Linked DNA regions of Homo sapiens. The protein of the gene in region 1 purifies or fractionates together with the protein of each later gene. This does not show direct contact. Each region holds a gene or a part of one and is shown on either strand. Other genes may lie near its edges.

What was found. The genes of interacting proteins can lie anywhere in the genome.
Region 2: the proteins of HOXC13 (region 1) and TEAD2 purify together in Homo sapiens (tandem affinity purification; one large-scale study listed by IntAct). This does not show direct contact.

Annotation. Positions count from the first base shown.
Region 1 is NC_000012.12:53,939,890-53,944,563, reverse strand, and holds part of HOXC13 (homeobox protein Hox-C13), read right to left. Parts: intron 1-4,674. UniProt on the Homo sapiens protein: Transcription factor which plays a role in hair follicle differentiation. Regulates FOXQ1 expression and that of other hair-specific genes.
Region 2 is NC_000019.10:49,351,384-49,355,916, reverse strand, and holds part of TEAD2 (transcriptional enhancer factor TEF-4), read left to right. Parts: intron 1-497; coding exon 498-605; coding exon of another isoform or gene 606-614; intron 615-710; coding exon 711-769; intron 770-4,533. UniProt on the Homo sapiens protein: Transcription factor which plays a key role in the Hippo signaling pathway, a pathway involved in organ size control and tumor suppression by restricting proliferation and promoting apoptosis.

The sequences.
Region 1 (4,674 bases):
GCCATGCTTGCAGAATTTCAGATATTCAGAAAAATCCCTCCTTCCTGCAGTTAGATCGCTTGGGTCCTTATTAGTTTATATTCTGCCCCGTTGCCAGAGGAAGACATTCTGTTGTATATTTCAGGGAGGGCATGGCAGGCAGGGGGTCAGCTTCAGTGGGCCCAGACCACCAGATGAGTCTTCACGCCTTTGGACACTGGCCCTACGTTAGGGATGTGAGGCACAGATAGAAGATAAGTGTCCAGGTGAAGCCAGCCTGCTTGGAGGTCCACACTCTAGGAATTGGGGTCCAATGTTATGAACCACCTAACACCCAAGGTGGGGGGTCCTGAACCTGAGATATAGGGAATCAGGTGTCTCTGGAAGTAGGGGGTCCACACTGCAGTCCCACCAAAACAGAACAAATTCTGTTCCAACCGCCTTCCCTCTCCATTCCTTCACAGCTGAAGGAAACTGTCTACATCCCTTGCACCAACCATAACCCTAAACCCTAGATGCCTGTCATCCAAACCAATATTACCAGTTCTGTTTCTTTAGGCTCTGAGAATTTCACAGAAACTAAAACCAATATATATCACTTCTAACTCCATTTTCTACTCCACCCTCATCCCTGTCAATAAAGGTCACGCAACACTTTCAAGGGGAAGTGGGGGAACTAGGGAGATTATCTGGATAGCTCAGCCCTCAATTTTTTCCATGTAATTATTAGACTTTAGGTGAAAGCTAATGAGGAGGGCTGAATATTTGGGGTTTCCCCTTCATTCCTACCACATTTTGAAACTATAGACACAGCCCAGAGGGAAGACACAAAGTTCTTTCTGAAATGTTTGTTCCCATCCCACCCTCACAGAACACTTTCCCTGTACCCATCCCCATTGGGTCTGCTTTCTCTCATGGACTCTATACACAATGGGAAGAGTAGTGGTCACAGTGAGACACAGGGGAAAACAAAATGCTCAGGAAGAAAATGGGAGACGGGGTCCAATGGCCTCATTTGACTGTCTTCTGGTGACAATTTCTCAGGAAAACTGTTGGACCTGGCATTTTTCTCTGCCTCTGTGAGAATAAACTATGATTTAAAAAAATCTAAAAAACAAAATAACTTTATTTAAACAGTATGGATCCTTTAGGTTAAAAAGGATTTGTTTTTGAACACGACCATTATCTTTAAATCTCTCAGTTCTCAAATTTGTTTTACTCTTACAGAGGTAACCATGATTTGGGAAATTGACGATTTGTTGACAAGAATAGAATGAAGAGGATATGTAGTGATACCATGAGTTTGTTGCTTTTGTTGTTGTTATTGTTGTTTTTAATCCTCAGAACATTTTTTCAGGATTATTTTGTTAAACTCATTTTACAAGATTAGGAATCTGAGGCTCAGAGTGGGTAAAATAACTTAAGTGGCAGAACCAGATTTTAAAGCCAGACTTTCTGACTCTTAAAATGATACAGTAAGTTTTAAAATGGAAATAGGCCAGCTAATACAATCCAGCTTTAAAACACCTCCTTTTCCCTGGAGAAGAATACAGTAGGGTAAAGGTGGGTTTTTGTTTCTGAATTAGCCAGATAATTGTCCCTAATTTTTTACTTTACTCTCTTTAAACTCTCACAATTACCTATCCAATTTTGGTTTCCTAAATTCTAGCTCTAAATTTCCAATGAGATTTAATCAACCCTAAAAAAAATCAGTTTAAAAAGTAGACAACTGGTTTAAACTGGTTATTTTTCTCTATAGGATGCCAAGGATTGATTTAGCCAATTTGTCCTGGATCAGACCAACTGCAGGTTGGTTTGGCCTCCTGGGGAAATAACTCCAGTCTTGCCTTCTCAAAGAAGCCCCCTTTCTTTGTCTGCTGCCTTATCTGGAAAGGAAATGGTATGTAGAGATGAAGAAACATCTGGTAGCTTGGACCTGGAGATGTGCGTACACTGCCTAAAGTGAGTGGGGGCTTAGTTATTAATCTTACAATCACCCCTTCCCTAGTCTCCCTCCAGATCACATACACGAATGACTTCATGCCTGGAAACCTAATAGACACCTTTGAGGAGTAAATAAAAATCATCTCAATGCTCAGCCATGGCTTTCTTTTTGGGCTTCGGGGCCCCTCTGTTCAGCTCCCCACAGCCCACCCACCCTTGACCACCCGCCCCCCCACAGGCAAGCTCTGGGCTCTGAAGAGTGCCTTGTCCAGCTAGAAATCCAGCTTGCTACTCTTCCCAACCCAAATCCAAAGGCTTGTCAGTAAAGACTTCTAGTGTGGTCCAAATAGCCCACTGTTTCTTTCTCCCTCTTTCTCTCTCCTAAACCCCATCTCTCTTTTTCTCCCTTTCTGATTCTCTCCTGGAATTTCTGCTTCTCTCTCTCTCTCAAAAAAAAAAAAAAAAAAAAAAAAAAAAAAAAAAAAAGTCTACACTCACCGTAGGGAGAAAAAAAAAAAAACCAGAGCAATAAAGCAAGAGTCTGTATAATTGGGAGAAGGAAGAAGCCACGACACATCTTGGCCCTAATTATCTGGATCTTGCTGAACAATTGCCTCCATCTCCCACACCAGCCCAGACTACCACAGATGAGGATTCTCAGAGCCAGAGGCACTGTAGAGAGACAGCAGTGTTTATGCCTACATGTTGCCGAACAAACCACAATTGCACAGACAGAGTTATCTTGAAATCTCACTACTTCTAAAAGATCTCTGAGTGGGTAGAAAGATGGAGAGTGTCTGAAGATAATTTCTTATTCGTCTGCCTCTTGTCTGTACCTCTGCACTCACTGAGATACATCAGCCCAATTCTATTTCCACACGGGGATTGTGGGAGCACATAGCTGCTGAGGCATGCTAGGTTTTATATCCATTTCCATGCCATAATTTGCAAGTGTATTAAATCTCAATTGGGATATACTTTTTTTATTTCAAAGATATTTTTCTCTAGGAGGCTGTGATCAAAAAAGTATTTATTTTTAGTGGAGTTTTGTTTTGTTTTGTTTTGTTTTGTTTTGTGTCCTAGGAATCTTTGAGATGTTTATTTTGCTCAAAGATATTTCTCAGCTTCTCTCCAATCCTTCACCCCTACTCCACACCACATTCATACATAGAACAGCTCCTTCTCTTCTACCTCTTCACACTAAACCCATTGCACATTGCTCTGGGCCTGTGCCCCCAATCCACAGTGGGTTTGGTGGGCACCTGATCCCTTACCCCTTAGCCCCTTGGCATAGCCCATTGGCTTCCCTGCCCCAGGAATTCCTGCTGGACCCCAATCTCCTAAGAAGCTTTGTGTTTTGGTGAGATAGAGAATTAAAGGGCCATCTCTCTAAAATACATTGCTGTATTATGAACATGTGAATTGTCTTTCTAGAAATCTATTATTGTATATTTCATATTAGGTAGTTAATAAAAGAAATCATATTATATAAAAATATTACAGCCAATACAGGGTAGGTGATGCATAATACCATGTACTAAAATTGCACCATCCTTAATTCTGGCAATCAGAAGTCAGGGTGCCTAGTGTAGGTCATACCCTGGTATTGAGTTGTGTTATACTAAGTAATTTCATAATATTCACAAGAATGTTATTTGCTACACTCTCTAATATCACTCAGTATTTTTTTTTAAACCACCTACCTCTTCTTCCAATTCCGTATGCAGAGGAATTTCAGGCCCACCCTTAGGAGGTCTTTGGGTCTATGCTTTCCAAGGAAAACATCCCTGAGCTTGGCACGTGGAGCTGGTCGGGGAGCTGGGCACTGTCGGGAGACATCTGTGGCTGCCCTGGGCCCCCCACCCCCAAAGACCTCTGTAGGTATCAGAAGGGAGAACGCTCTCCCACTGAGCTCTGCTTACAGGGAGAACAGACTCAAATGCTGGACTCCCTAGACCGGAATCCTGATTTCTCAGCACAAGGCAGGATCCAAAGCTCTTGGTGTGGTTTTGGGAAACCTGGGACTGGTCTTGTCCGCAAGGAGAGCGGTGGGATTTACAGGAGCCTTTCTCTCTTCAACTGGAGACGGAACAAGAGGGGAATGAATTCTCCCTTCCCATCCTTAGCCAGACAAGACCAAGGGGTCCCCAGCCTGGGTCTGGACTCCAGAAGCCCCTGAACAGGTCTTGAACAGGTCTTCCTCTCCCATTTCTCATCCCCACGCCCTTCTTTCTGTGTCTGGGGCACCAATAACTAACTCTCTTTCTCGACCACATATGGGGGAGTTGGCAGTGGAAATGTCTATAGGTTTGAGCTCAATATACCAAAGAGGCAAGGAAAACTTTACAATGCTGGGGAGGGATTCTAGCCTCCTCTCCACTCCCTCTCCAGAGATTTTGGATCTTCTGTTCCCTCAACAATCAGGAAATTCGTGGCCAGATTTTTAAAATAAGTCAGGAAAGGAAAAAAATAAATCTCACATTTCTGTAGACCCCAGCAAATTAGTCCCCTATTTAAAAAATACTGTCTAGTGCCTGAACGATCCTGCGAATTCTGTCAAAGAAAGTGGGGGTTCTTATTCTCCGCCCTCCCCAGTTATTCGGTGGGTTGGGGGTTTTGTCCTGGATTCCAAGGCACTATAGGCCCACCCCGCCCCCATCCCTTGCCGGAAGCAGGTTTAGGGGCCAAGAGCCCGGCGGGAGGCTGGAGCCTGCAAGGGGAGGCGGAGGCGAGCTACCGGACAGAGCAGAG
Region 2 (4,533 bases), on another chromosome or scaffold:
CTAGTGCCCTGTCCCTGAGGAGGGGCAGAGGGCTGTGGGGAGAGGTTCAACCCTCCCCCAACCCAAGCCTTTGCCTTTTTTTTTCTTTTTGGAGACAGGGTCTTGCTCTGTCGCCTAAGCTGGATGCAGGGGCACGATCTCCACTCACTGCAACCTCTGCCTCCTGGGTTCCAGTGATTGTTGTGCCCTAGCTTCCCTAGTAGCTGGGATTATGCGTGTGCACCACCACACCTGGCTAGTTTTTGTATTTTTAGTAGAGACAGGGTTTCACCATATTGGCCAGGCTGATACTGAACTCCTGACCTCAAGTGATCTGCCCGCCTCCGGCTCCCAGAGTGCTGGGATTACAGGCGTGAGCCACCATGCCCGGCCACTAACCCTTTGCCTTGACTCCCCACCTCTGCACCTCCCCGTCTTCACCCCACCCTGGCACCATCCCCCTCTTGCCATGTTGACTGAGATGCCCCTCTCACATGAACTTCCGCCTCCTCCTCCAGGACCAGGTTTCCAAGGACAAGGCTTTCCAGACAATGGCAACCATGTCCTCTGCCCAGCTCATCTCCGCGCCTTCTCTGCAGGCCAAACTGGGTCCCACTGGTCCTCAGGTGGTCCAGGTTGGGGATTGTGGGACGTGGGGGCAAAGGGGGATGGATGGGGCTGCAGCTGTCCACAGGGGACTGACCAACCATTTTTCTTTGTGTCCTATCCAGGCCTCTGAGCTTTTCCAGTTTTGGTCTGGAGGATCTGGGCCCCCCTGGAATGTTCCAGAGTGAGTACTATGTGTCCTGGCTCAGCACCTGCCCCCCACCCTCACACTCCCACAGAGACCTTTCTCACTCCACCTTCTAGCTCCTGTGTCCCCCCATTTATGTATGTATGTATGTATGTATGTATGCATGTATGTATGTATTTATTGACATGGAGTCTTGCTCCGTTGCCCAGGCTGGATGGAGTACAGTGGTGCGATCTCGGCTCACTGCAACCTCCGCTTCCTGAGTTCAAGCAGTTCTCCTGCCTCAGCCTCCCGAGTAGCTGGGACTATAGGCGCCTGCCTCTATGCACGGCTAATTTTTGTATTTTTAGTAGAGATGGGTTTTCACCACGTTGGCCAGGCTGGTCTTGAACTCCTGACCTCGTGATCCACCCGCCTCAGCCTCCCCAAATGCTAGGATTACAGGCGTGAGCCACCGTGCCCAGCCTCTATTAGGTGGTTCTTGGACCTGAGGGTAGAACAGAGGTTATAATTAATCTTCTCTTAGGTTCAGAAGGAAGAAAATGTTTCCCAGAGGTAAGTGGGAGTGTCCTTTTCAGTTCTGAGAGAGCCTTGAGGTGACGGGATATGTTTGTAGCCTACAAGAATAGAAATGGGCCCCAGAAGATGATGGGAAGTGCTTTTTTTTTTTTTTCTTTTTTTATACAGGATATTCTTCTGTTGCCTAAGCTGGGGTGCGGTGGCACAATCATGGCTCACTGCAGCCTCAGCCTCCTGGGTTCAAGCAATCTTCTTGCCTCAGCCTCCTGAGTAGCTGAGACTACAGGCATGTGCCACCACACCTGGCTAATTTTTTGATTTTTGTAGAGACGGGGGTCTTGCTATGTTGCCCAGGTTGGTCTTGAACTCCTGGGCTCAAGTGATCCCCCTGCCTGGACCTCCCAAAGTGCTGGGATTACAGGCGTGAGCCACCGTGGCGGGCTAGGGGTGTATTTCTCAGCCCAGAGAGGAACTGATGGATCCAGGCTAGGCATTGGTTGGGTAGTGTGGCTGCAGGACGGTGAGGCAGGAGTGTTGACGGTATTGTCAGAGAAAGAGTGTAGTGAGGGCCGAGTGTGGTGGCTCACGCCTGTAATCCCAGCACTTTGGGAGGCTGAGGCGGGTGGATCACGAGGTCAGGAGATCGAGACCATTCTGGCCAACATGGTGAAACCCCGTCTCTACTAAAAACACCAAAAAAAAAAAAACAAAAAACAATTAGCTGGGCGTGGTGGCAGGCACCTGTAGTCCCAGCTACTCAGGAGGGTGAGGCAGGAGAATCACTTGAACCCAGGAGGCAGAGGTTGCATTGAGCCAAGATTGTGCCACTGTACTCCAGCCTGGGCAATAGAGCGAGACTCCAGCTCAAAAAAAAAAAAAAGAGTGCAGTGACAGGCTGTGTGGGATCTAGACTGGAAGAGAAGGAAGGTCACTGGGGAGCTGCTGCTGAATGGGGATACGGGAAGCATCAGATCAAGTACCTGGGGGCTGAGGGTTTTGCAGGGGGGTTGCTTAGCTGGAAGGTAGGGGGCTGGGCAGGCACTGCCCTGACGCTGGGGTTTCCGCTTTCATGGAGCTGTTAGTCAAATGGGGGAAATGAGCGTTCATCAAATCATCACCTGCATAAACAGAAAATCGAAGAATGTGTGAGGTGCTGTGAAGAACCACAGCAGGTTCTGGGGTGGAGGAGAAAGTTCTAGGGGTTTCTCTGAGAAGATAACATTGAAGGCCGGGTAGGACTTAGCCAGGTGAAGAATGGGAGTGGGAGGCCCGGCATGGTGGCCCGCATCTGTAATCCCAGCACTTTGGGAGGCCAAGGAGGGCAGATCACTTGAGGTCAGGAGTTCGAGACCAGCCTGTCCAGCATAGTAAAACCCCATCTCTACCTAAAATGCAAAAAATAGCCAGGCATGGTGATGTGCGCCTGTAATCCCAGCTACTCCGGAGCCTGAGGCAGGAGAATCGCTTGAACCTGGGAAGCAGAGGTTGCAGGGAGCTGAGATTGTGCCACTGCACTCCAGCCTGGGCAACAGAGCGAGACTCTATCTCAAAGGAAAAAAAAAAAGAATGGGAGTGGGAATATATTAGGCAGACACAATAGCACACGACAAAGTCCTCAGGTAGGAGATCTTTCTGGGTTCCAGGAATCTAGAGGAGGCCAGTCCAGTATTTGTTGAGTGCCTACTAAGTGCCTGATACTGTGCTTGGTTTGGGGGCACAGCAGTAAGACAGGTGAAATTCCTGCCTTCACGGAGCTTCATATATTTGGTGGGCGGGGGAGGAGACAGACAATAAACATATAAACAAAGAATTAATAAGAAAAGGAGGCCAGGCATAGTGGCTCATGCCTGTAATCCCAGCACTTTGGGAGACCGAGGTGGGTGGATCATTTGAGGTCAGGAGTTCGAGACCAGCCTGACCAACACAGTGAAACCCCGTCTCTACTAAAAAAATACAAAATTAGCTGGGTGTGGTGGCACAGCCTGTAATAATCCTAGCTACTTGGAAGGCTGAGGCAGGAGAATCGCTTGAATGCAGGAGGCGGAGGTTGCGGTGAGCCAAGATCACGCCATTGCAGTCCGGCCTGGGCAACAAGAGCAAAACTCTGTCTCAAAAAAAAATAGAGCTGGGGTCTTGCTGTGTTGCCCAGGCTGGTCTCAAACTCCTGGGCTCAAGCGATCTTCCTGCCTTGGCCTCCCAAAGTGGTGGGAATACAGGCGTGAGCGACTGCGCCTGGTCTGACCTCTGACATCTAAGTCTCTTCACCACTATCTCTTGGGCTACTAGGGCTGTGACTGATACTGTAGCCACTAGCCTCATGCAGCTATTTAAATTAAAATTAAATAAAATTAAAGATTCTGTTTCTCAGGTCCATGAGCCACACTTGTGCTCAGTGGCCACGTGGTCTGTGGTCAGTAGCCACATGTGGGCACTGGGTACCGTATTGGATGGCACAGATTTCCATCCAATAGAACATTTCCATCCCTGGAAAGTTCTATTGGCCAGTGCTGCCTCCCCACCCCGACTTTGGCCTCCTGTCCCATCTCCTGAGTGTTGGTCATTTTCTTCCCACCCTCCCAACCCCTCAGCCTCTTCTTCCTCCAAATTCCTTGTCTTCTGCGTCTTCTCCCTGCCTTCCAAGACTTGGTTTCTCTTCTCTCCTCTTTCTTTTTATTTTTTTTTTGAAATGGAGTCTTGCTCTGTCACCCAGGAGTATAATGGCGTAATCTCGGCTCACTGCAACATCTGCCTCCCGGGTTCAAGCAGTTCTCCTGGCCCAGCCCCCTGAATAGCTCGGATTACAGGCGCGCACCACCACACTCTGCTAATTTTTGTATTTTTAGTAGAGATGGGATTTCACCATGTTGGCCAGGCTGGTCTCGAACTCCTGACCTCAAGTGATCTGCCCGCCTCAACCTCCTGAAGTGCTGGGATTACAGGTGTGAGCCACCACGCCAGGCTGGTTTCTCTTCTCTTTCTGACATTTTGTGAGAGATACCAAAATGTCATCATCAAGAGCCTGAGATACCGGGCTGAGACTGACCTGGGTTCAAGTCCCAGCTCTGCTGCATCTCAACTGTGTGACTTTGGGCAGGTCAGTTGACCCCTCTATACCTCAGTTGTCCTCATTTGTGCAATGAAAAGAGCAGTCATTCTACCTACCTCACGCACTGTGAGGCTTCAGTGAGATTGTGCACAAAATGCACAGGGTCTTGCTTGTTGTGGCCTCTCAGTAAACATTTGCTGGTGACATTAGCATCTTTCTACCTGGCTAACCCCTG